7 linked regions of the Homo sapiens genome follow. The protein of the gene in region 4 purifies or fractionates together with the protein of the main gene of each other region. This does not show direct contact. Each region holds a gene or a part of one and is shown on either strand. Other genes may lie near its edges.

What was found.
Region 1: the proteins of P2RX5 (region 4) and CANX purify together in Homo sapiens (affinity purification with mass spectrometry; 2 studies listed by BioGRID and IntAct, with this or other methods). This does not show direct contact.
Region 2: the proteins of P2RX5 (region 4) and PBXIP1 purify together in Homo sapiens (affinity purification with mass spectrometry; 2 studies listed by BioGRID and IntAct, with this or other methods). This does not show direct contact.
Region 3: the proteins of P2RX5 (region 4) and BRAT1 purify together in Homo sapiens (affinity purification with mass spectrometry; 2 studies listed by BioGRID and IntAct, with this or other methods). This does not show direct contact.
Region 5: the proteins of P2RX5 (region 4) and DPH1 purify together in Homo sapiens (affinity purification with mass spectrometry; 2 studies listed by BioGRID and IntAct, with this or other methods). This does not show direct contact.
Region 6: the proteins of P2RX5 (region 4) and STK17B purify together in Homo sapiens (affinity purification with mass spectrometry; 2 studies listed by BioGRID and IntAct, with this or other methods). This does not show direct contact.
Region 7: the proteins of P2RX5 (region 4) and TNPO3 purify together in Homo sapiens (affinity purification with mass spectrometry; 2 studies listed by BioGRID and IntAct, with this or other methods). This does not show direct contact.

What each region holds. Positions count from the first base shown.
Region 1 is NC_000005.10:179,722,967-179,726,466, forward strand, and holds part of CANX (calnexin isoform d precursor), read left to right. Parts: coding exon 1-53; intron 54-693; coding exon 694-813; intron 814-1,690; coding exon 1,691-1,817; intron 1,818-3,500. UniProt on the Homo sapiens protein: Calcium-binding protein that interacts with newly synthesized monoglucosylated glycoproteins in the endoplasmic reticulum. It may act in assisting protein assembly and/or in the retention within the ER of unassembled protein subunits.
Region 2 is NC_000001.11:154,946,100-154,949,599, forward strand, and holds part of PBXIP1 (pre-B-cell leukemia transcription factor-interacting protein 1), read right to left. Parts: intron 2,268-3,500; coding exon 2,034-2,267; intron 1,907-2,033; coding exon 1,883-1,906; intron 1,614-1,882; coding exon 1,543-1,613; intron 1,450-1,542; coding exon 1,318-1,449; intron 705-1,317; coding exon 1-704. UniProt on the Homo sapiens protein: Regulator of pre-B-cell leukemia transcription factors (BPXs) function. Inhibits the binding of PBX1-HOX complex to DNA and blocks the transcriptional activity of E2A-PBX1.
Region 3 is NC_000007.14:2,538,525-2,542,024, forward strand, and holds part of BRAT1 (integrator complex assembly factor BRAT1), read right to left. Parts: intron 3,313-3,500; coding exon 3,194-3,312; intron 2,961-3,193; coding exon 2,774-2,960; intron 2,529-2,773; coding exon 2,455-2,528; intron 2,371-2,454; coding exon of another isoform or gene 2,247-2,370; intron 1,384-2,246; coding exon of another isoform or gene 1,365-1,383; coding exon 1,262-1,364; intron 1,119-1,261; coding exon 1,020-1,118; intron 828-1,019; coding exon 655-827; intron 421-654; coding exon of another isoform or gene 241-420; coding exon 1-240. UniProt on the Homo sapiens protein: Component of a multiprotein complex required for the assembly of the RNA endonuclease module of the integrator complex.
Region 4 is NC_000017.11:3,682,656-3,686,155, reverse strand, and holds part of P2RX5 (P2X purinoceptor 5), read left to right. Parts: intron 1-3,500.
Region 5 is NC_000017.11:2,028,911-2,032,952, reverse strand, and holds the start of DPH1 (2-(3-amino-3-carboxypropyl)histidine synthase subunit 1), read right to left. Parts: upstream 2,801-4,042; 5' UTR 2,799-2,800; coding exon of another isoform or gene 2,784-2,798; coding exon 2,723-2,783; intron 1-2,722. UniProt on the Homo sapiens protein: Catalyzes the first step of diphthamide biosynthesis, a post-translational modification of histidine which occurs in elongation factor 2.
Region 6 is NC_000002.12:196,161,579-196,165,078, forward strand, and holds part of STK17B (serine/threonine-protein kinase 17B), read right to left. Parts: intron 1,850-3,500; 5' UTR 1,806-1,849; coding exon 1,684-1,805; intron 1-1,683. UniProt on the Homo sapiens protein: Phosphorylates myosin light chains. Acts as a positive regulator of apoptosis.
Region 7 is NC_000007.14:129,045,112-129,048,611, forward strand, and holds part of TNPO3 (transportin-3), read right to left. Parts: intron 1-3,500. UniProt on the Homo sapiens protein: Importin, which transports target proteins into the nucleus. Specifically mediates the nuclear import of splicing factor serine/arginine (SR) proteins, such as RBM4, SFRS1 and SFRS2, by recognizing phosphorylated SR domains.

The sequences.
Region 1 (3,500 bases), on a different chromosome or scaffold from region 4:
ATTGGGCCAATGATGGATGGGGCCTGAAGAAAGCTGCTGATGGGGCTGCTGAGGTTCGTGTTTGCTGCTTGTGCATTTGTGTCTGTTATTGTAAGGAGCTGTTATTTTGTGAAAGTCTGTGTTAAGGTTTTTTTTCTTCATTTGGCAATATTGGCATAAAAAGTATAACCATATGCCTGCAAAAGACACAATATTGGGTTTTGGGGCATGATTTCATTAGTCTAATGTAGTGGCTTTAGAGTCTGTTTGTGTTCAGGGTTTTTTTTTTATTATTTGTCTGGGTATATATTTCGAAATTTGTCATTTAGGCTATATTTTAATACACTCTTATATGTTGAATCTCGGTTTACACTACATACAGAATTTTCAAACAACTGGTCATGTGGCCGATTTAAGAATTGGAGAGCCAGGGATACTGAGATAAGAAATTCACTGGATCCTGAGGTTAAGGGAGCCTTTTGCAGGTGATGTAGAAGCCAGCTTTTGCACCTATGAGAGTGAAATCATCTTGATTATAAGGAGAGCAAGAGGATGGAGGCTTTCTCTAATTTCTTTTTTACATTTTATGAGCATTTTCTCTGAAAAAGAAGGTCCTGCGTAGTGCCATGCCATAACTGAACTGCAGAAAAACAGCACGGCCTATGTTTGGTGTCAAAAGCTGGAACTTTCAATCAGCCCTGTCTTGTTTTTCAGCCAGGCGTTGTGGGGCAGATGATCGAGGCAGCTGAAGAGCGCCCGTGGCTGTGGGTAGTCTATATTCTAACTGTAGCCCTTCCTGTGTTCCTGGTTATCCTCTTCTGCTGTTCTGGAAAGGTAGGAAGTTTTTTTTTTTAGAATCAATTTTAGAGACATCACTCTAGTGATTATTAAAAATAACTAAGATATGTTGCCTGAGGTTTTCTTTGTAGTGGCTCAGTAATGACCAAGCCATGTTTGGTGTTGACTTCAGAAACCTTACTTACTGTTCCTCAGTGGCCGTTTATTGTGCCCAGATGGGAGCAGGATTTATAGCCCCTTGGTTGCTATTATTATTTATCCTAATCTGTTACTCTCCATAGTGTTCGGCAGCAACTTTCTAAAAAAAAACAATAAACTTAGATACCAAACTAGCCACTTGGGCAATAATCAGCTTTGCCTGCTGGCATAGCTATTTCTATTCTTTGTAATTCAGTCTTTGATTCCTCATTATCCATTCTGCCTTCACCTTCCCCACTCTCAAAACAGTATGTTGGGGTACCACAGCCTTATTGTTAGTTTTTCTTGTTTAGCCTTTTTTTTTTTGCATGCTATCATAAAAAAAGAAAGTCTTATTTTGGACTCTACTTCTGCTAAATGAGGATTATGCTTCATCTGGCATTCATAGCACTTTGTAACTGGATCCCAAGTTCCTTTTCCAGCCTCAGCCTCTGCCACTATTCTGTGTATCGGTGCCTCAGTCACCTTGACTTTTTTGACCTTTATTTTCCTGCCTGGCCCTTTTGTTTTTATTGTTCTACCTTGAAACACACAAGCACATGTGCATACACACACGTACATACACGCTCTTCAGGGTAGGAATTACATCCTATTCGTTTCTGTATATCTATCCCTGTATACAGCCTGGAACAGAACTTTGCCTGTAGGCATTCAGGAATTATATAACATAATACATGAACATGTAAACAAAATTGTACTTTGGGGAACATTTCAGAAACAGACCAGTGGTATGGAGTATAAGAAAACTGATGCACCTCAACCGGATGTGAAGGAAGAGGAAGAAGAGAAGGAAGAGGAAAAGGACAAGGGAGATGAGGAGGAGGAAGGAGAAGAGAAACTTGGTAAGAAACAGAGTCCAGAAAATCTGCTTTAAGCCAAGACCCTACGATGTTGTTAAACCTTTACAGTCAAGTTAAGGATTGTTTTTAGCCAGGCGTGGTGGCTCAAGCCTGTAATCCTAGCACTTTGGGAGGTTGAAGCAGGAAAATCACTTGAGCCCAGGAGTTTAAGGCTGTAGTCAGCCAGGATAGTGCCACTGCACTCCAGCTGAGCAACAGAGTGAGACCCTGTCTCTCTCTCTCTCTCTTTTTTATTTTTTAAGACAAGGTCCCACTCTGTCACTCAGGTTGGAGTACAGTGGCACAGTCACAGTTCACTGCAGCCTTGACCTTATAGGTTCAAGTGATCCTCCTACCTCAGCACCCCTCCAAGTAGCTGGGACCACAGGCATGCGCTACCATGCTCAGCTGTTTGTTTGTTTGTTTGTTTATTGATTTATTTATTTGATATGGTCTGGCCCTGTTGCCCAGGCTGGAGTGCAGTGGTGTGATCTCGGTTCACTGCAGCCTTTGCCTCCCAGATTCAAGCGATTCTCCCACCTGGGCCTCCCAAAGTGTTGGGATTACAGGCGTGAGCCACCAGACCCAGCGAGATCCTGTCTCTTAAAAAAAAATTGTTGGCCAGGTGCGGTGGCTCACGCCTGTAATTCCAGCACTTTGGGGGGCCGAAGCAGGCAGATCACGAGGTCAGGAGGTCGAGACCATCCTGGCTAACATGGTGAAACCCCATCTCTACTAAAAATACAAAAATTAGCCGGGCATGGTGGCAGGTGCCTGTAGTCCCAGCTACTCAGGAGGCTGAGGCAGGAGAATGGCGTGAACCTGGGAAGGCAGAGCTTACAGTGAGCCGAGATTGGGCCACTGCACTCCAGCCTGGGTGACAGAGCAAGACTCTGTCTCAAAAAAAAAAAAAAAAAAAAAATTGTTGGCCAGGCATGGTGGCTCACGCCTGTAATCCCAGCACTTTGGGAGGCCGAGGTGGGTGGATCACGAGGTCAAGAGATCAAGACCATCCTGGCCAACACAGTGAAGCCCCGTCTCTACTTAAAATAAAAAAGTTAGCCAGGCATGGTGGCGGGCGCCTGTAGTCCCACCTATTCGGGAGGCTGAAGCAGGAGAATCACTTGAACCCGGAAGGCAGAGGTTGCAGTGAGCCGAGATTGCGCCACTGCACTCCAGCCTGGCGACAGAGCGAGACTGAGTCTCAAAAAAAAAAAAAAATTGTTGGCCGAGCAAGGTGGCTCACGCCTATAATCCCAGCACTTTGGGAGGCCAAGGTGGGTGGATCACCTGAGGTCAGGAGTTCGAGATCAGCCTCGCCAACATGGTGAAACCCCGTTTCACTAAAAATACAAAAATTAGCCAGGCGTGGTGGTGGGCACCTGTAATCCCGGCTACTCCGGAGGCTGAGGTAGGAGATCCACTTGAACCTGGAGGCAGAGGTTGCAGTGAGCCGAGATCATGCCATTGCACTCCAACCTGGGTGACAAGCAAAGTCGATCTCAAAAAAAATAGTGGCCGGGCGCGATGGCTCACGCCTGTAATCCCAGCACTTTGGGAGGCCACCGAGGAGATCATGAGGTCAGGAGATCGAGACCATCCTGGCTAACACGGTGAAACCCCGTCTCTACTAAAAATAAAAAAAGTTAGCCGGGCATGGTGGCAGGCGCCTGTAGTCCCAGCTAT
Region 2 (3,500 bases), on a different chromosome or scaffold from region 4:
TCCACCCTTGGCCTGCCCTCCTTCCACCTTCCTGCTGGCTCCCTGTCCTCCTGACCTCCCCAGTTCTTCTTCCTTTCCCGGCCAGATTCTTCCTTCTTATGTTTCCAGTGCTCAGCCTTCCGGTCTCTCTGCCCATCCCACCACTTTTCCTTTCCACTCCACTCCCTAGAATTCTGGAAGTGGGACTTCTGGTGCCAGGCCTTTGAGGCATTGGCAGAGACCCCAGGGTCCTGGCCCCAGTTCTCCAGGCCCTGCAGTTTCTGGGCCAATCTGTGGCCCAGCTCAGCCAAGCCAGCATGAGCTGGGTCCCCGCGGCTGGCATCCTGCAAGCTCCTCTCCAGATCCTGCTGTACAGACCCCAGCAGCCGTCGCTGCCTCTCTAACTCTTGCCTTAATGCCTGTGCCTCAGCCTCCAGCTGTTCCTTCTGCTTCAGGAAGCTGAGTTCTGGCTCCTGCTCCCTGGGGCCTTGCTCCCTGATGGCCTTGTCACCCTGTGGGCCTCTACCCCCACTGAGGCACACCCCATCTGGGCCCCGGACACAGTCGGCCTCCAGCCCCTGGAGCCGGGCCCGCAGCTGCTGCAGCTCTGACTCCAGAGCCCGCTGGAAGGCTTCGCCCTGCTGCAGAGCCCCCCGGAGCTGGGCATTCTCCTCCTCTAGCCCTTTGGGCTGGTGCATCAGGCTCTGAAGCTCTTCCTTTTGGGCCTAGAATATGGTTTGGGACAAAGGAAGTCACAAAGAGTTCTTGTCAGGATAGCCCCAATGCCTTCTACCCCAATTCCATTCTATTATAGTGGGCAGGTGGCCTGAGCCCGTTTTACAGCCTGGAACACCCAGAGGATTTGGTTTTCATCCTCCACCCCATCTCCATCATGAATGAGACACAGGGATCCCCAAATTCCATCCTGAGCCTCGGCATCTACATCTTTATATAAGCACACACTTCCTAGATTCACCTAAGGATAGCCAATGTGTGGCTCTCACAGTCTTATTTCCTGGAACAGTGTTAACTGATCATGGCACCTGGCATGTTCTTTAAATCCTTTTCCACACAGTGCTCCAGGCAGACCACACCAATCAATCACAGGTGATACCATGTATGTTTCATGTACCATGTGGAACAGGTATGCCAGCCCTGGCCCAAACCTTAGCACAAGGGATGTGAACCAAGAACTGGGAAGACGCCCTGACTATAGTGGGAGAGGGGAGGGTCAGGATGTGTGGGTAAATAGGAAACATTCCTTTTGGGGGAGGATGCTAGGACAGACGCCTGGCCTAGGTGGGTTACCCTAGCCCAGCCCCTCCTGCCTGTGCCCACCTGCAGCTGGGCCTGCAGCAGCCGGATGTCCTGGTTCTCCTTGGCCAGCTTGTCCAGCAGAAGACCCATGTTTTGCAGGCTGGGGACACTGTCAGGAGGCACTGGGGCCTGCAGCTGTTCCCTTAGCCCATCCTGAGGGCAGAAGAGCCTGTTATGCCATGCTACCCCACAGCCCAGGTTCTCCCCAGCCAGGCCCCACCTGCCTCTGGAGACATTCACACATACCTGCCTGTCCCCCACAGCTTCCAGCACCTCGGGGTCTGGGAGGACCTGCCGCTCCACTTCCTCCATGGGCCCTGTGGGAAAGGGAAACCCTGAAACTGGTCCTGAGGCACACAGAGCCCATTCTCCCCACACCTTCCCATTCACACAGCCACCACTCCTGCTCAGGACCCACCCTGTGGCTGAGCGGTTTGGTGAGATAAAGGGCCAAGGGGCACCCTGAACAGCTGACAAGGCCACTAACTGAGAAATAAATGTGAGCCCCCAGCACCCCTACTCCTGACCCACAGAACCAGAGAACACATACAACTCCCCAGCACAAGACAGGCTCCTCCCTACTCACCAGTCTCAGACTCTGAGAGGCCACCTAAGGACAGAGACAGAGGAGTCTGATGAGGCCCTCGGGGAGGGGTGATGTGAGGTAAGGTGAGAACATGGCAGGAAGGCAGGCAGGCATGGAAGCCCAAAGCCCCAGCCTCAGAGGTACCACTCACCTGAGAAGAGGAGGACCCCCAGGCCAAGCAGAACCAGGGCCCCAAGGAGGCACATGTTGAGGGAGATGCCCAGCTCCCCGCCTGCACCCTCACCCCCAGCCTGGTTCTCCACAGCCAGGGGCACCATGGGCTGAGGTGGGCCGGCCTCCCGGCCCCGCCGTCTCCGCAGACCCTCCATGTCCACGTCGGTGTCATCGTCACTGCTGGAGCAGCGGCCCTCCTCCCTGATCCAAGCTAGGGGAAAGGACAGGGACAGGGCAGTGAGGTGACTGGAGAGATGGGGAGACACAGGGAGAGAGGGGAATCAGAGGAAGGCACAGGGAGGGAGGTCGTCAGCCCTGACCCCAGAGAGGGGCACATGAAGACCTTGCCCACTTGCCCACTTCTGCCTGGGCATTGATGACTGTCCCTGCCCAGTCTGGAGGCAGGAGACCAGTGCTGTCAATCTACGAGCTATAAAAGCCATTTTCATCCTGAAAGCATCCTCCTTCCTCAGTGTGCGCTGTGCATCAAACTTCTGCAGCTATTACCACCCTCCTGGGTTGCCTCCAAACTCTCTGGCCACTCCTTCCCATTCTCCCTCCCTGGCTCTTCCCTGATCCTAAAGTCAGTGGTCTCCCTGGCACCATTTCAGGTTCTCTGCTCTTCTCACTGTACACATAGTCACAATTCTCTGACCCACACCACTGACACCCCCCTTCAGCAATGAGTCCTTAGTGTGTAACTCCTCACTTGGCCTCCCAGAGCTCCAAGCCTGTATGTCTGACTGCCTGCTGGCCACTCCCTCTGGGACCAAACATTCAACACACTGCTCTGCAAACTGGTTCTTTTCTGGTGTTTCCCCAATTCAGGGGAAGGCACTGCTTCCACCATCTAGCTAACCTAAGCCCTCCCTCTCCACCTCACATCCAGACAGTTTCACAGTTCTACACTTAAACATCTTGACAGTCCACCCCTGTTCACAACCCACACTGTACCTGCCTTAGTTCAGGTCTGCATCTTCTTTCTTTTTTTTTTAATATTTATTTATTTTTATTTATTTTTATTTTTTGAGACAGGGTCTGGCTCTGTCGTCCAGGCTGGAGTGCAGTGGCACGATCACAACTCACTGTAACCTCCACCTCCCAGGCTCAAGCGATCCTCCCACCTCAGCCTCCTGAGTAGCTGAGACTATAGGCATGCATCATTACACCCGGCTAATTTGTGTGTGTGTGTGTGTATTTTTTTGTAAAGACGGGGTTTTGCCATGTTTCCCAGGCTGGTCTCAAACTCCTGAGCTCAAGTGATCCACCTGCCTGGAACACCCAGAGGATTTGGTTTTCATCCTCCACCCCATCTCCATCATGAATGAGACACAGGGATCCCCAAATTCCATCCTGAGCCTCGGCATCTACATCTTTATATAAGCACACACTTCCTAGATTCACCTAAGGATAGCCAATGTGTGGCTCTCACAGTCTTGTTTCC
Region 3 (3,500 bases), on a different chromosome or scaffold from region 4:
ACGCGGCGGCCCCAAAGTCTGGCCCAGGAACACGAGGGCCAGCTCCAGGCCCTGGGCGCGGACCTCCCAGTCCAGGTCTCGGCTCGCCGCCTGCAGCACAGTGGCCACGAACTGCTCCGTGTCCTGGGCCGCGTCGGCGTGGCCGTCCCGCAGCCACTCAGTGAAGACTTGCATGACCGCCCGCCGTGGGAAGCCCTCCGAGTCTACGGAGAGGATGTGCAGGAGCTCCAGGAACAGGCTCTGGGGGACAGGGAGCAAGTGCGGATGGTTGGTGGGGTGGCAGGAGCGAGGCTCCCGCAACAGGACTCCGGTACATGATGGGGGCTGGCCCCGGACATGCAGTCTAGGGCCACAGCCCGCTCTGACACCTTCCCATGCTGCGCAGTGAGCACACGGCCCTCCAATCCTCAGTTTACCCATCTGTCAAATGGAGGTAACCATGTCTAAGTGGAGGGGTGCTGGGGAGACAGAAGGCGAAGCGCACAGGTCCCACACCCAGCACAGCCCCAGGGCCTCGGCAGTCACTGCTGCAGGCGCTGCCCACAGCAGCAGCTGCTCCCACGCTGCATGCTGGCCGCTCGACCACCCGCAAGCAAACGAGCACACACGATGGCCAGGCGGGAGTTGCTGGCTGAGGAACCTGCCACCTCCTACCTGCCGGGCCTCTGCATGCTCAGGGCTGGTGGGGGCGTGCAGGCCCTGGCTGGACAGCTGCCCCATGGCGGTCACTGCACTCGCTCGGACATAACTCTCAGGGTCCTGGAGGAGCTGCAGGGCCAGCTGAGGCACCTCTGAAGCCAAGAGTGCGCATCTGAAGTCAGCCTGTCCTGGGGGTCGAAACGGCCACATGCAGCTGTGACTGAGGGCCGAGCCTTGTCGCCTCGGCCTCTGCCTCCATCCCCTTGTGGGCAGCCGACATGGCCCAAGTTTCTAGAGCCAGCAAGAGGCTGCTGGTGCACCCTGGCTCAGTGAGCCCCCCACAGGCGGGGAAGGCAGCCCCTCCACCTGCCAGCACTCACCTCCCCAGTGCCTGCTCAGCTGGGTCAGGAACTCGAGGGCGGAGTCCCTCACCTCCCAGCAGGGGTGGCACAGGCGTTTCTGCAGCACAGGGAACAGCTCTAGGGTGGGAAGGGACAGGTCAGGGTGACCTTGGGGCCAGGCTCACCCTGCCCTCAGAGCCAGCTGAGCCATTCCACCCAGCCCCTGCTGCCTCCACCCCTGCGACTCCAGCTCCGTTCACCCCTGCAAGGGGCTGCGTTACCTCTGAGGAACTGCGGGATGAGGGGGCCGAGATCAGAGCAGCCGGGGGTCTTGGGTGAGCTCAGGAGCCACCTGAGCGTGGCCTGGAAGGCCTTCTTCAGAACCTGGAGCAGATAGGGTGGGCTGCAGGGCCACGGGAGACGGAGGGGCAGGCTGTCTGTCTGTCCCCCTCGCCTTCACCTGTGCTGCCCGTACTCCAGGGACAGCAATGGGGACAGGAAGTGGAGAGAGAAGGGAACGCTGGGCTTCCTTCTTTTTTAGAGACAGGGTCTCAATGTGTCATCCAGGCTGGACTGCAATCACAGTTCACTGCAGCCTCCACCTCCCAGGCTCAAACAGTCCTCCTGCCTCAGCCTCATGAGTAGCTGGGGCTAGAGGCACACATCACCACGCCTGGCTAATTTTTGCAGTCAAATGCTCTACCCCTGAGCTATACTCCTGGGGCTAATTTTTCTATTTTTTTGTAGAGATGGGATCTTGCTATGTTGCCCAGGCTGGCCTCAAAAGTCCTGGGCTCCATTGATCCCCCCACCTCGGCCCCCCAACGCACAGTAATCACAGCTGTGAGCCCCACGCCCCTCCTGGGCTGATTTTAATAGGGCAGAATATGCTGCAGAACCGGCTTCCCAGACTGTGAGCAGGAGGAGGTGGTGGCAGCCCTCACCAGAAGACCCACAACCCAGGCAACGGGATTTCTACATCAAAACATGACCAATTACGCAGGGCACCTTTTCCTTAGGATCCCAAGAAGCCCTGGGCCCTTCCTCCAAAGTTGTCTGCTGTCTGCTCAGCGGCAGGTGGCACAAGGTCTGTACCTGCCAGGGCCCAGCTCCGTGAGGGGCTGTGGAGTAGGCACATTCACAAATGGCGCTTAGGAGAACCCAAAGCCCACGCCCAGGGCCGTCTTGGTGCCACCTCATTTCCCTTGTCCAGAATTCCCCGCAGGCCGCCTGACCAGTGCCCCTGCTCCCCACGGCCCCACACACCCCTGCGTGCTGATGTATCTTCACCAACAAGAGGCCCTGGGCCCGCCCCATGCAGCCACCTGCATCGTGAAGCTCTCTGAGCAGCAGCTCTGTGGCCCTGTGTGAAGGCCCCATCCGCAGAGGCCTGCACGGGACGGGGTGGAGTCAGGGGTGGGTCCCACTGCCTCTGCCTCCCTCCTCTCCTCGCTCTCTATCCCCACCACCGTACCGTGGGGCTGGAGCCGGGGCTCTCGAGGCACTCCAGGAGGACAGCAAGCGCCTGCGTCACCAGCTCCTGGGGGCCTGAGACAGAGGTGAGTGGATAAACCACCCCCACCCCCACCCTAGGACCCTCCCCATCAACTCTGGGAAGGAGCAGAACAAGGCCTCATCCGCCAGCTGAAACCTCCTGCACGGCCCCTGCACCCCTCAGCCCCCACCCCAGAGAAGAAACAGAGAGGGACAGCAGTTCCCGGGTGCCTCCGAGCAGAAAGGAGAGTGGGGGCACAGGGATAGCCCCACGCCAAAGCCGTACAGAACACACTCACCTGTCCCCTGTGACAGCGTCCCCAGGAAGTCGAGGGCTGCTCGCTGGACCCGGACGCAGCCCGCCAGGGTCCCACAGAGGTGGCCCCCCACACTGGAGGCAGGGGCAGCCGAGCCGTCACAGAGCCGCAGGACAGTCACTGTAGCCCCCAGTAGAGACGCCTGGGGCCACGGTGAAGGGCGCTGGGGCTGCGAGGAAGAGGGCCGTCAGCCAAGGTTGCGGTCCCACTGCCGGCGTGGATGCAGGGGTGCTGGGACTTCGAGGCATGTGGGGCGGGGGACATCAGCCAAGGTTGTGGTCCCACTGCTGGCGTGGATGCAAGGGTGCTGGGGCAGCAAGGGGTGGGGGGCGTCAGCCTACGTTGCGGTCCCACCGCCAGCGTGGATGCTGCTGGGCTGCATGAGGACCGGGCCGCACCTACCAGCGGCTGCAGCTCCTCCAGGTGAGCCAGGGTGCGGCACAGGAGGCCGGCGCAGGACGACTTGGAGGCCAGGAGTGTGTCCACCGTCGTGGCATCGTCTGCCGTCCCGTCCAGCAAGCCTGGGGGCCAAGCCAGGAAGAGCTCCCTTAGAGAGCACTTCAGCCTCCCCACGGTCACCAGCCACCCCACGGTCACCACCCACAGCACAGGCCAGGACCTAGGTGCAGAGCAGCAGCTCACCAGGGGAGATGGCCATGTCCCCGGTCCCCTTTGCTCTTGGAGGGAGGCCTGGGTGTGATTAAAGTGG
Region 4 (3,500 bases):
GGCCCCGCTGTGCGTTCTCCTGTTCTGAGGCTGGGCGGGGGGCGGGGGACGTTGGGAGGGTCCCTGGGGGCCCCGCTGTGCGTTCTCCTGTTCTGAGGCTGGGCGGGGGGCGGGGGACGTTGGGAGGGTCCCTGGGGGCCCCGCTGTGCGTTCTCCTGTTCTCAGGCTGGGAGGGGGACGTTGGGAGGGTCCCTGGGGGCCCCGCTGTGTGTTCTCCTGTTCTCAGGCTGGGCGGGGGGCGGGGGACGTTGGGAGGGTCCCTGGGGGCCCCGCTGTGCGTTCTCCTGTTCTGAGGCTGGGCGGGGGGGCGGGGGACGTTGGGAGGGTCCCTGGGGGCCCCGCTGTGTGTTCTCCTGTTCTCAGGCTGGGCGGGGGGCGGGGGACGTTGGGAGGGTCCCTGGGGGCCCCGCTGTGCGTTCTCCTGTTCTCAGGCTGGGAGGGGGACGTTGGGAGGGTCCCTGGGGGCCCCGCTGTGCGTTCTCCTGTTCTCAGGCTGGGAGGGGGACGCTGGGAGGGTCCCTGGGGGCCCCGCTGTCCAACCTGCCTCGCTCACTGGCCTTGTCTCTATCTTCCAGGCAGGGAAGTTCAGCATCATTCCCACCATCATCAACGTGGGCTCTGGGGTGGCGCTCATGGGTGCTGGGAGTACCTCCCCTCCCTCCCCGCGTCCCACCCTCTCCCCGGCGGCCGCACTGGCAGGGAGGGGGAGGCTGCTGTTCAGGAGGACCGTGTCCCAGTGCCCCCAGAAAGAACCAGAGCTGGCAAGATCAGAATAGGCGTGGGAAAAGAGGGCTTTCTGGGATTTCACGCTCTGCCAGCTGTCCTCAGGTAGCAGTGACAGCCCGAGTCTCTTTCCAGAGCCAGGGAGGCATGTGCTGGTAGCTCTGCAGCTGTGCATGGGTTTAGGTCAGTCCCCAGCCGAGGCGTGGCTGGGATATCCCTGGGATCCCAGGTGAGTCCCTGAACTTCTAAAGTCTCTATCTCTACTTCTGCTAAAAGAGGGCAGGATTAGGCCGGGCGCAGTGACTCACACCTGTAATCCCAGTGCTTTGGGAGGGTGAGGTGGCGGATCACCTGAGGTTGTGAGTTCGAGACCAGCCTGACCAACATGGAGAAACCCTGCCTCTACTAAAAATACAAAAATTAGCCAGGTGTGGTGGCACATGCTTGTAATCCCAGCTGCTCAGGAGGCTGAGGCAGGAGAATCGCTTGAACCCGGGAGGAGGAGGTTGCGGTGAGCCCAGATCACACAACTGCACCCCAGCCTGGACAACAAGAGCAAAACTCCATCTCCAAAAAAAAAAAAAAAAAAAAAAAAAAGGGGGCAGGATTAGGCTGCAGACAGTTTCTTAGCCTGGGTGCTGCTGACTTTTTGGGTGGGAGAATTCTGTGTTGTGGTCTTACACACATCCTTGGACATGCCCTTAAACATTCCACAATGCACAGAGGGCTGTGCTGGGTGTCGTAGGAGGTTTTTGTTTGTTTTCTATTTCATATTTCACACTTTTCTGGTCGATACTATATTTTCCCAGACCCTGAGGATGTTGATTTCAGAGACAGGGTTTTTGCTCTGTTGCCCAGGCTGGAGTGCAGTGGCATGATCATGGCTCACTGCAGTCTTGAACTCCTGGGCTCAAGCGATCCTCCCACCTCAGCCTCCCCACTAGCCAGGGCTGCAGGTGCACCACCACCTGTGGCTAATTTTTAAATTTTTTGTAGAAATGGGGTCTCACTATGTTGGCCAGGCTGATCTTGAACCCCTGGGCTCAGGCAATCCTCCGGCATTGGCCTCCCCAAGTGCTGGGATTATGGGCGTGAGCCACCGCGCCCAGCCCATTGTAGGATGTTTAAGAGCATTCCCGGTTTCTACCCACTAGATGTTAGGGGCACCCTCCCCTGCAGTTGTGATGGAGCAAAATCCCAGCTGGCTGAGAACCACCCGACTGAAAGGCTGAGAGGCAGGGAAGGCAGCCCTGTGACTCTTCCTTAGAGGTGGCCCTTCAGTGGGGCCGGGAGCGGCTCACAGGGGAGGAGACACAGGGACTGAGGGCAGGGAAAGGCGTCCTGAGTCTACACTGCCCCGTGGTCCTTCTGGAGTTTTTGAGAGCCATGGGAGTGGTCAGTGCCCATCCCGGCAGGTCCCTTTCCCAGGTTTCTGGCAGCCTCTTCCCTCATTCCTCTCCCTGTGCACACAAGACAGCCCCACTGGAGGAGTCCATTGGGACCCAGGGGTGACTTTTGTTAAAACCTGGAAAATTGTGTCCCATACCAGGACCACGTTCCTGGGAGGGGGTCAAGAAAAGTGAGCTCCACATGGATCCCTACCTGCAGACAGTCACTGGGAGGGTCCTGGATGTTTGCGCCTGTTACTTTCTTACAGAAGGCCCACCTTCAGCTATCACTTTTCTTTTTTTTTTTTTTTTTTTGAGACGGAGTCTCACTCTGTCGCCCAGGCTGGAGTGCAATGGCATGATCTTGGCTCACTGCAGCCTCTGCCTCCCAGGCTCAAGCAATTCTTCTGCCTCAGCCTCCTGAGTAGCTGGGATTACAGGCGTGCGCCACCGCGCCCGGTTAATTTTCGTATTTTTGTAGAGACAGGGTTTCACCATGTTGGCCAGGCTGGTCTCCAACTCCTGACCTCAGGTGATCCGCCCACCTCGGCCTCCCAGTGCTGGGATCACAGGCGTGAGCCACTGCGCCCAGCCCATTCATCACTTTCTTGTGATGTGGGTAAAATCAGAGCACCCTCTGGGGACAGACCTGTGAACTGGAAGTAATGGCGCAGGAAGAGGTGGTGGTCAAGGTTAGGTTTGGGGTTGGTCTCTGGGGAGCAGCGAATTGGTAAGCAACATTTTTGGCATCTAGGGGATGGATGTGCAGCACCCAGGGTCAGGGGACCAAGATTCCTTGTTGGCCCCTCCACCAACCCTTCCCACCTCCACTCTCCTCTATCATTCAGGCCCCAACCCTGCCCTGTGCTGTGGGTGGAGTCTCCCTCTGCTGGAGGAGAGGGGCAATTGCATCGCTCTGGTCCGTAGGGCACGTTTTGGGTGTGAGGGGCTGAGCTGGGGTCGTCCACCTCATCATCTTCCTTTTTTGTTTGTTTTTGCTTTTGTTTTTGTCTCTTTTGAGATGGAGTTTTGCTCTTGTTGCCCAGGCTGGAGTGCAGTGGTGCGATCTTGGCTCACTGCAACCTCCACCTCCCGAGTTCAGGCGATTTTCCTGCCTCAGCGTCCTGAGTAGCTGGGATTACAGACACCCGCCACCACGCCCAGCTAATTTTTGTATTTTTTAGTAGAGACAGGGTTTCACCATGTTGGCCAGGCTGGTCTCGAACTCCTGGCCTCAGGTGATCCGCCTGACTCGGCTTCCCAAAGTGCTGGGATTACAGGCGTGAGCCACTGCACCTGGCACCCATCATCTTTCTTTGACTAGCACCATAGCGTCCTTGTTGGTTAGAACCCTTCCAACCTATCTCACACTGACTACCACAGGGATCT
Region 5 (4,042 bases), 1.7 Mb from region 4:
AGACCATCCTGGCTAACACGGGGAAATACTACTCTCTACTAAAAATACAAAAAATTAGCCGGGCCTGGTGGCAGGCACCTGTAGTCCCAGCTAAGGCAGGAGAATGGGGTGAACCCGGGAGGCGGAGCTTGCAGTGAGCCGAGATCACGCCGCTGCACTCCAGCCTGGGCAACAGAGCGAGACACCATCTCAAAAATAAATAAATAAATAAAATAAAAACCCTTTGCTTGTAAGCCATCAGGAAGTTTAGGTCTTAAGCTTTAGCTGCCCAGTCTCCCTGCTTGGTGCCTTACAATAAATGCTTGTTCTCTCCCTGCAAATCTCCATGTCAGTGTTTGGCTTTTGCTTTGTGTGGATGGGAAGACCCAAGTTGAGTTTGGTAACAAGACCCAGCTAAGCTGTTAACTCCACCAAGTTTAAGGGCCAGATCCAGACACCAAGGGGGTTGGCCCAGCTTTCGTTCTCACTGAATTCATCCTGAAGGTAGAGACAATTCATTAAGCCAGAAGGTAACCGGTATAATTTCCATGTTGTGAAATCACTGGGAATCGAAGACTTGAGCCCATGAATAGAATATGGCTCACCTTCTTCCTCAGGAGAACAGAGGTGACACCAGGGGCTAAGGGGCAAAGAATGAGTCTGAGTCCATATACTGCTCCCTGATAGAGAACAGCCCTGCGGAAAACCTAAGAGTCAGTCTAGCCAGCCCAGCCAGCCTGGGAGAATGTCCCCCCTCTCCCACCTCCTGAGGACACCTTGAAGTTTTGAGCTTCTAGATATGAGGTCTATAAGCAAACCGTTAAACATGAATACTAACTTAAAAGACTGCCCTCCTGACTCAGAACCCCACTGACTGTGGCCACACTGTTCGTTCTTTCACGCTTACCTCTCCTCATTTAAAAGGGAAATAAACATCATACATTTAACTGACTTAGCTGTCCCATTGCTCCTCCTTACTCTTAAACCAGGAAGGATGGAAAGAACACTTGAGTCAGGGTGGTGGACGTACCAGTAAGGACAGAAAAGTGACCTTGTCCCTTAGAGACCAGCAGTCTAGTGGGGGAAAAGACAGGTATACACATAATTACAACTCCTGGAGTAAAGGGGAAACCGTAGCCCTTAGCAAACTGCAACTCTTACTCTGGTCTCATCCTACTCCTAAGTAGGATAAAAAATAATAAGCTGAATAAACAATTCATCTTATTATTTTTTAAGGCAGGGTCTCACTCCATCACCCAGGCTGGAGTGCAGGGGTGCAATCATGGTCCACTGCGGCCTCGACGTCCTGGGCTCAAACGATAATCCTCCCACCTCAGCCTCCCCAGTAGCTAGGACCACAGGCATGTGCCAAGACGCAGGGCTAATTTTTTTTTTTTTTTTTTTTTTTGAGACAGAGTCTCACTCTGTCTGTTGGCCAGGCTGGAGTGCAGTGGTGCAATCTCGGCTCACTGCAACCTCAGCCTCTCGGACTCAAGCAATTCTCCTGCCTCAGCCTCCCGAGTAGCTGGGATTACAGGCGTGTGCTACCACACGCGGCTAATTTTTGTATTTTTAGTAGAGACAGGGTTTCCACCATGTTGGCCAGGCTGGTCTCAAACTCCTGACCTCAGGTAATCCGCCCGCCTCAGCCTCCCAGAGTGCTGGGATTACAGGTGTAAGCCACCGTGCCCGGCCACGCACGGCTATTTTTTATTTTTTTGTGCATACAGGGTCCCCCTATGTTTCCCAGACTGGTGTGGAATTCCTGGGCTCACACAATCCTCCTTAGCCTCCCAAAGTGCTCAGACTAAAGGTGTAAGCCACTATGCCCTGCCCCGACAATTAAGCTTAGTTCAACCCCGTTATCTCTTCAGGAGCCACAGAGTCTGAGGATATGAAAAGGCAAGAAATTAACTTATTCAACGAATATGTATTGAGACTGTGCTATGTGCCACAACTTCTGCTAGGGCCCCACACTATGATAGGAGGGACCCGCCCAGACATGAGGCTTCACCCACTGTGTGGGCGGCGGTGGGGATGGTCCAGCGGAGGCTGGGGCCCTGAGATCAGATTTGAACGTTACCACTGCTATGGTTTTTGGCCAGTTGTTTCAAAAGCCTTGGACAATCAGCCTAGGCTTCCTAGGCCCATTACAGATCCTCCTCTGACAGGTCCCTAGTGGTCGCTGGCGTGTAAGGAACTGCTAACATTAGCCCTTCAATGTGTCCCAGGGACCAGTAGGCACCTCCTCCTTTATCACGTGGCTATGATATGTTTACATTAACATTCCCCCAGTAGACTGAGATCTCTGATTCTAGTACCTGCACCCAGCGCAGGCCTGGCATTCGGTGGGCGCTCAGTTAATGCCTGGCGAATGAAACCTTTTGCCTCTTCCCTGAAAGCATTCCCTGAGGGCGCACTCGTAAAATGCCCGCTGCATCTGGCCTGGCCCTTTCCCTCCCCGTCGAGTCCATTTTATCCGTCTACCCGCCAAGACAAGGCTGTAGTTTCCGATTGGAGGATTAAGGGCTGCTCTCGGTCGTGCCCTAAAGCTGCAAAAGACTGGTACCCCTGGGCTCCGGCTGACAGCGACCCCGAGCTGGTGACAGCGGCCCAAGGCGACTAACAGCGGGATCTAGCGGAGAAAGGCGCCGCCGCCGTTAAAGGGGGTTGGTCCTGTCCCTAACTTGGGGGCCCCGCCCCGAGATGCGAGGTCTGGAGGGCGCAGCGTTCCAGCACCCACCTCTGCCAGGGCCGTCTCGGCCGCCCTGCTCCGCTGCCCCGGATACGACCAGCGCCGCCATCACCTGCCTGCGCATGTGGTACTAAAAAGACAGCGCTGGAAGAACGCGGAGAGCGCAGACATTGCGATCGATCGCCGATCGGCCAGCGGGGGCGGGGGATACCCGCTGGGCGGGGCCATAAAGGAGGAGATAGGGGCGGGGCTGTAGTGGGCTCCACCCCAGCCCAGAATGCCGGGACTCAGGATTCCCTAGAGGTCCCCGACTATGCAGTTGCCCTTGCCCTGCGACTTAGTCTCCCACTCCTCTCCCCGGCCGGGCACGAGCCTGGCACTCCCGGACCGGTGCTCTCCTATGTGCGAACTCCCTGCACGAACTCTGCAGGCCGAGTCTTGTGAAGGGGACACCCACCAGATGTTCCTTGAGCCCCCCCTGCCAGTCTCCCCTCCTGGTAAGCAGTGGTCGGTCACCCGGCCGCCGTGTGGGGCCACGTTCCCTACCTAGGGGGACTCTACTGTCCGGCAGGACAGAACTCAGGGACCACCAGCCCAGCTCCAAGTTGAGAGTCTTGGTGCAGGTTTGTGGATCGCCCTTATCAGCTTTTTAAATTATTTTTTTTGAGACAGGGTCTTGGTCTGTCGCCCAGGCTGGAGTGCAGTGGTGCGATCATGGTTCACAGCAGTCTCAACCTTCTGGGCTCAATTCATCTTCCTGCCTCAGCCCCCTGAGTACCCGGGACCACAGGCGTACGTTCAGCTAATTTTTTTTTTTTTTTTTTTTTTTTTTTTTAGTAGAGATAAGGTTTCACTATTTTGCTCAGGCTGGTCTTGAACCTCTGGACTCAAGCAATCCTCCCACTTTGGCCTCCCAAAGTGCTGGGATTACAGGCGCGAGCCACTGCACCCAGCCTTTATCACCTTTAGAATCCACTGCGTAGACCCTGTAGAAACTGCCCCTCTGGGGAAGGCCCACAGCCTGAGGGTGCTTTCCTGGGAAGGTGGGCAGTGGAGGACTGTGATGTCTAACCCTTCTGGACCCTGGCCAACCTTTGCCCTGCCCCTCAGGGCTGGTCTTTCTCCTGATCACTGGCCAGAGCCCCAGAGACCCCAAAGAGAAGACAGCCAGTGAGACGGCTTTGACCTGTGGAAGAGCAAAGTACCTGCAGGACTGGCCCTCAGCAGTCTGTCCCGTGGAACAATGGTCTTCCAGGTCTGACGGTCTACCCAGCCCCCTGGCATCCTCCTCCTCTCTCTGCGGTGGTGCTGTGATCACAGCTGGCCCTTTAAGTCAGCTCTGTGTCCTCGGGCTCCCCCAGAGGCCCT
Region 6 (3,500 bases), on a different chromosome or scaffold from region 4:
CATGATATCGGCTCACTGCAACCTCCACCTGCCGGGTTCAAGTGATTCTTCTGCCTCAGCCTCCTGAGTAGCTGGGACTACAGGCACACGCCACCATGCCTGGCTAATTTTGTATTTTTAGTAGACACAGGGTTTCACTATGTTGGCAAGGGTGGTCTCGAACTCCTGACCTCGTGACCCACCCTCCTCGGCCTCCCAAAATGCTGGGATTACAGGCGTGAGTCACCACACCTGGCCAGATATTATAATTCTTATTTTGCAAAAGAAAGGCTGCATCCAACATCTGCAACGTGAAAAAGCCAGGACTTGCCTCTGCCCTTAAGGTAAAAGGCCACCAAGAATGAAATTACTTTTCATGATTCAGTCAACTTTTCTTCTCACATCGAGATTTTCAAAGACAAAAATCAATCACATTGTTTTGCTGCACATTTATCAACACAAATATGGACTTAGTAAACCATTTAACATACAACAAAACATTTACCTCCAGAACTAAAATCAAACTGAAAATACATGATGACTACCATCTTCCAACCCTTCATTAAGCACCTTTAATTTAAAGCTCAAAAGATGCTGAATATATAACTTAAATAACTTGGTATATCTTTTATAACTTTTCATATATTAAAATGGTAGTACAGAATGGTTTCATAATATCATGTCACTCCTTGGCCGTACAGAGTTTATACACTGGTTAAGAGAAAACAATTTGTAAAGGCTTTTTACTTATAAACCACTCATTTGTTGTGACATAGAATCAGACTATGAAATATGAATTCATTCTTTTTGTTCAACTTAGGAGAGGGGGAGAATCTCCCTATTTCTTCTTCTTCTTCTTTTTTTTTTTTTTTTAAGCCAAGCACAATACCCTAGGAATTTAAAAAAATATTTCATTTAACAAAAACTTACAGAGCACTGTACTAGGCACTTTACAAATATTAACTAACTTAATCCTCATAACAACCATATAAGACAGACACAATTATCTTCACCCCTACTTTTCAGATGAGGAAACGACAGCACTAAGAGGTACAGTAGGCAGGGCGCAGGGGCTCACACCAATTATCTCAGCACTTTGGGAGGCCACGGCCAGAGGATTGCTTGAACCCAGGAGTTGGAGACCAGCCTGGGCAACATGGAGAAACCCTGTCTCTACAAAAAACCAGCCCAGTGTGGTGGTGTGTGCCTGTAGTCCCAGCTACTTAGGAGGCTGAGGTGGCAGATCCCTTGAGCCCAGGAGACAGGAGGTTGCAGTGAGCCAAGATCATGTCACTGCACTCCAGCTTGAGCAACAGAGTGAGACCCCGCCACAAACAAAAATTAAAAAAAGAGGTACAGTTATTTAGTTGAAGTCACACACCTAGTAACTGGTGGAGTCCAAACTTGAACTCGGCAGTCCACTATGCTGAGCTGCCTCTTCCCATGCACAGCCTCATGTAACGACAGAGACCTCCTATCAGAGGCTCTGAGGCTAGGTAGGATGTATGATTTAAGTTCACTAAACCCTCCACAGATTTGATTTTCAAGTCAGTTAAGACTGGACCCTAGGTAACAGCAACAGAGATCACAACTTTCCTTCCTAATCATTGTTAAATAATGATCCCAAGTGAGTTTTATAGAATTATAAAAACACAAATCCAAAATTTGAATTTAGATGGCATACACGTCATATGGTTTTCTTACCTCCCTAGCTCTTTAGATGTAAGTATATAGAAATTATTAAAGTTTTCCATTTTTATTGGAATTTGAGGAGTTGTAGTTAGTAGGCCTGAAATACTTCGGCAATCAAATCTCCTCCTCGACATGTTAGGTGATTCCCAGGTCTGCTTCTTTAGTCACTTATTTTTACCTATGCAAAAAAAGAGAATACAGAGAAAAGATGTTATCTCAGGCAGGATGTGCATTACATTACACAGCTCCAAATATAGCTATAAAATACAACTAAAAAAAAAAAAGATTTAAAGAGCACATTCTATCCACAAGGAGGAAAAAACAAAAAGCATACACATAAACCATAATAACACTATGGCACTTGAACGAAGTTACTGACTTCATTTCAGAATAAAACTACGGTAAAAATCCTCTCAATTTAAAAAAAATAGTTATGATAAAATTATAATGCAAACAATCACTTAGTTTCATCATAAAACTCCATTCTTTAAAGTTATAGAGGTTTCAGCTGGACATGGTGGTATACGCCTATAATCCCAGCACTTTGGGAGGCTGAGGCAGGAGGATCACTTGAGGCCAGAAGTTCAAAACCAGTCCTGGCAACATAGCGAGATCCCATCTCTATGAAAAAATTTAAAAATTAACTGGGTGTAGTGGCTCGCACCTGTAGTCCCAGCTGCTTGGGAGGCTGAGGCAGGAGCATCACTTGAGCCCAGAAGTTTGAGGTTGCAGTGAGCTATGAATGTGCTACTGCAGTTCAGTTTGGGCAATAAAGCGAGATCTTATCTCAATAAATAAATAAATAAATAAATAAATAAATAAATAAAGTTATAGGTTTCACATAATAGGTAATTTAATACGACAAGATAATAATTATTCATTTTAAACTTATTTTCACATGGCTAAAGAAATTTGGTGGTAAATGCACATATTGTGAGTTATATTACTGACGTGAAGGACTACAAGAAATAGAACTTCTTCCACGGATTGGCTATGTTTCAGTACTAAACTCAGAAACTCTCAAAGGTCTTAAGAGTCCCTCCTTTGACAGGACCTAGCACAGAGCCTGCTATGTATGAAGTGCTCAATAATTTTGTTGGAAGAGTGACTAACCTATACATAAAGCTTTATTTCGAAGTTCTGTATCTGAAGCTCATATATGTATCTGGAAATTTGTGATGTTTATATGCATTCAGTGTTATCAAAACTATTATATTAATTGCATTCATAAAACAATAACAGATACTATATTTCAAGACACTTATGACTTATTGCTATGCCTACTTAATAAAATATCAATTATTATTCTTTTAGCACCCTCCTGTAGTAACCCGCTAAGCATTTGTTCCTCCTCTGACATCTTTTTTTCCTATTTTCTACTTATATGTACTGTTCTTTATCTTCTTAAATTCAAATGCCAACTATAGTCTACTTAGCCAAAAAGCAGTGTCATTAGAGTTCAGCGTTTTCAGTTTCTACATTTTCTCTTCTTGGTGTTATTCTCAAATTATGAACGCGTCACTGCAGTTCAGCCTGGGCGATAGATGGAGACCTTGTCTCAAAAAATTAAATTAAAATTATAGCTTTCACATAACTAGATAGTAAAATTGTTTTCTCTACATCTCTTAGTCTTTGGGGAAACAGCTCTAACTAGTTTTGGGGTACATCTCTAGGAGTCAAAGGGTTGTAGTGTAGCATTCTGAGAATAACCTTTAGACTGAAAGACACCTGGGTCTGAATTCCATTCATCCATCATACCAGCTATGAGACCTTAATTAAATTATTTAACTTTGCTATTGTTATGGGCTGAATTGTGTCCTCCCCCAAAT
Region 7 (3,500 bases), on a different chromosome or scaffold from region 4:
TACTGTATGATTCCACTTACATGAGGTACCAAGAATAGTCACATTCATAGAGACAGAAAGTAGAATGGTGGTTGCCAGGGATTGGGGCGGGGAGCAAATGGGCACCTATTTTGTTTAGTGGGCATAGATTTAGTTTTACAAGATGAAAAAGTTTTGAAGATGGATGATGGTGATGGTTGCACAACAATGTCAATGTATGTAATACCACTGAACTGCACACTTAAAAATGGTTAAAATGACTGGGCACGGTAGCTCATGCCTGTAATCCCAGCTACTTGGGAGGCTGAGGAGGCAAGATAGCTTGAGCCTGGGAGTTTAAGGCTGCAGTGAGCTATGATCGCACCACTGCACTCCAACCTGGGCAACAGAACAAGACCCTGTCTCAGAAAAAAAAAAAACGTTAAAATGCTAAATTTATGTTTTGAATGTTTTGCCACAAAAAAAAAAAAATCTATAAAACCTACTTTCCATTTCCTCCATAAACATCAGTGCAATCAATCACTGTAAAAGAATGCTGAAGAAATATCTGAAAAACTTTGGAAAAACTATTGTAATTAGAAAATATAGTAGTACCCTGATAATTTTACATCCTAAATCAAACTATCAACTTTGGCCCAAGGCCTGGCAAGACAAGAAACTAATCAAAATATGGAGAAATGCCACCACATAACAGACTACCATGGCAACAGAAATACTGTCACAAAATCACAAACATAGACTCCAATACTTCAAAGACATGAAATGTTCTATATTTGTACCGTACAGTACTTGGAATGTGGGTAAGTGCAAATAAGAAACTGATTTTAGGCCGGGCGCAGTGGCTCATGCCTGTAATCCCAGCACTCTGGGAGGCTGAGGTGGGTGGATCACGAGATCAGGAGATTGAGACCATTCTGGCTAACACAGTGAAACCCCATCTCCACTAACAATACAAAAAATTAGCCAGGCATGGTGGCATGCACCTGTAATCCCAGTTACTCGGGAGCCTGAGGCAGAATTGCTTGAACCCGGGAGGTGGAGGTTGCAGTGAGCCAAGATTGCACCACTGCACTCCAGCCTGAGTGACAGAGTGAGACTCCGTCTCAAAAAAAAAAAAAAAAAAAAAAGAAACTGATTTTAACTTTTACTTAATTTTAAGTTTAAATAGTCACACTAGACTGGTGGCTACTACACTGGATGACACAGCTACATTGGTACACTCTCTGGGAGAAAGATCTTTGGTTTTCATTATTTACATACTCCCAGTTTCTATCAGTGCAAGGCACAGAGTATTCCTAGACTGAACTCATCTACTGAAGTTGTATAGGAATATTTTCTATTTTCTAGAAGGCTTTCCTTTCAAAAGCATGTTTTGACTGGAAGGTGCAAGCATAAGCACACACAAAAAATGCCTAAACTTTCAAGATAAATCAGTAATGACCAGAGAAAAGCCAAAAACCCTAGGTTTTATAACCAGGCTAAAGAATCAATAAATTCCAAAAAGGAAAAGTACTAGCAAAGAAGTTTGAAGCTGATATTCCATGACCCATGTATTAATGTGTTCTCACACTGCTAATAAAGACATACCCAAGCCTGGGTAATTTATAAAGGAAAGGGGTTTAACTGACTCAGTTTCACATAGCTGGGGAGGCTTCACAATTATGGCGGAAGACGAAGGAAGAGCAAAGCGACGTCTTACATGGCGGCAGGCAAGAGAGAGCTTGTGGAGGGGAACTCACATTTATAAAACCATCAGAACTTGTGAGACTTATTCACTACCACAAGAACAGTATGAGGGAACCCCCCATCATGATTCAATTACCTCTACCTGGCCCCACCTTGCCACAAATCGGGGGGTATTATTACAAGGTGAGATGTGGGTGGGGACATAGCCAAACCATATCAACCCAAGACCTTTCTGATATGATATCTAAGAAGAAAATTCCTATGGACATGTGATAAACCAAACATGACAATGCCAACTTAGTCTATCAAAGCATGACTTTACTTCATCTGCTTTGTGCTTTTGATGCTTTCCATCAAAAAGCTGCATACACCCATGCTGAAGCATGCCTATTCAGTTTCCATACTGAACTATAAAACTTTTGAGGTAATATCTAACCCAAAGATTGTCTCTGTAAAAGTTATCTCCTACTTACAACTTAAATTAAAAACTTATAACTGAGTCGCTTAAGTAATTGGCCCTATGAAGAGATGGTCTTTCCTTCAATAGCTCTCTACAACTTCTACTAATTTTGGTTAGTAGGGGTGGACAAATGAAACTACTAAATATACAGGACAGGCTACTAAGATTCCTTTAAGATCTGCCTCAAAATACTCTCTTTCAGAACACTTTGAAGTTATCAGTGATATCTATCTATCACATAAAACAACCATGGCTGTACATCTCCAAAAATTTTGGTGGAAGTTTAGAGCAATGAATACAGATTCTTCAGAAAATGGCTGTTTTATACAAATATTAGAGAAAGAGAAAAGATGCTAACTCACAGTACAGGCTAAAGCATATTCAAATTATACCTCTATACCACGTCTACTGTCACCAGGTCATTCGAACTATACTCAATTACTCTCGGATTAGTTAGGTGGGGTGGTAGAGAAGAATAAGGATAATAGTTTCACAAATACATATTCTTGAAAGTAGTTTTTTAGCAAACCACACAAATTCTATGCCTTACCAATTTCAAATGGATGTTAAAACACTATAGTTATTACTACAGTTAAAACACGCTTTTGTTCCAGTAGACAAAATCTTCCGGAAAGAAAAAAACCACCACACACATTACTTTTGGTTACAAATGCCATTTAGTGACCACTTAAAGAGAGCCTTGGCCAGGCACAGTGACTCATGTCTGTAATCCTAGCACTTTGGGAGTCTGAGGTGAGAGAAGTGCTTGAGCCCAGGGGCTTGAGACCAGCCTGGGCAACATGGCAAGACCCTGACTCTACAAAAAATACAAAACATTAGCCAGGTATGGTGGTGCATGCCTGTAGTCCCAGCTGTCCAAGAGGCTGAGGTGGGAAGATCACCTGAACCCAGGCTCAGGTGAGCAAGGCTGCAGTGAGCAGTAATCACACCTCTGCGCTCCACAGCCTGGGTAACAGAGTGAGACCCTGTCTCAAAAAACTAAATAAATAGACCAGGTGCAGTGGCTCACACCTCTAATCCCAGCACTTTGGGAGGCCAAGGCGGCCAGATCACTTAAGGCCAGGAGTTTGAGACAAACCTGGCCAACATGGCAAAACCCCAATCTCTACTAAAAATACAAAAATTAGCCGGGCATGGTGGCATGTGCCTGTAGTCCCAGCTACTTGGGAGGCTGAGGCAAGAGAATTGCTTGAACCCAGGAGGCGGAGGTTGCAGTGAGCCAAGATGGTGCCACTGCACTCCGGCCTGGGCAACAGAGTGAGACTCTGTCTCAAAAAATAAATAAACAAAGAGAGCCTTATTGAGTCAAAAAGTTCCTCTCCCTTTCTGTACCTGAATATTTGCAAGTATGAAA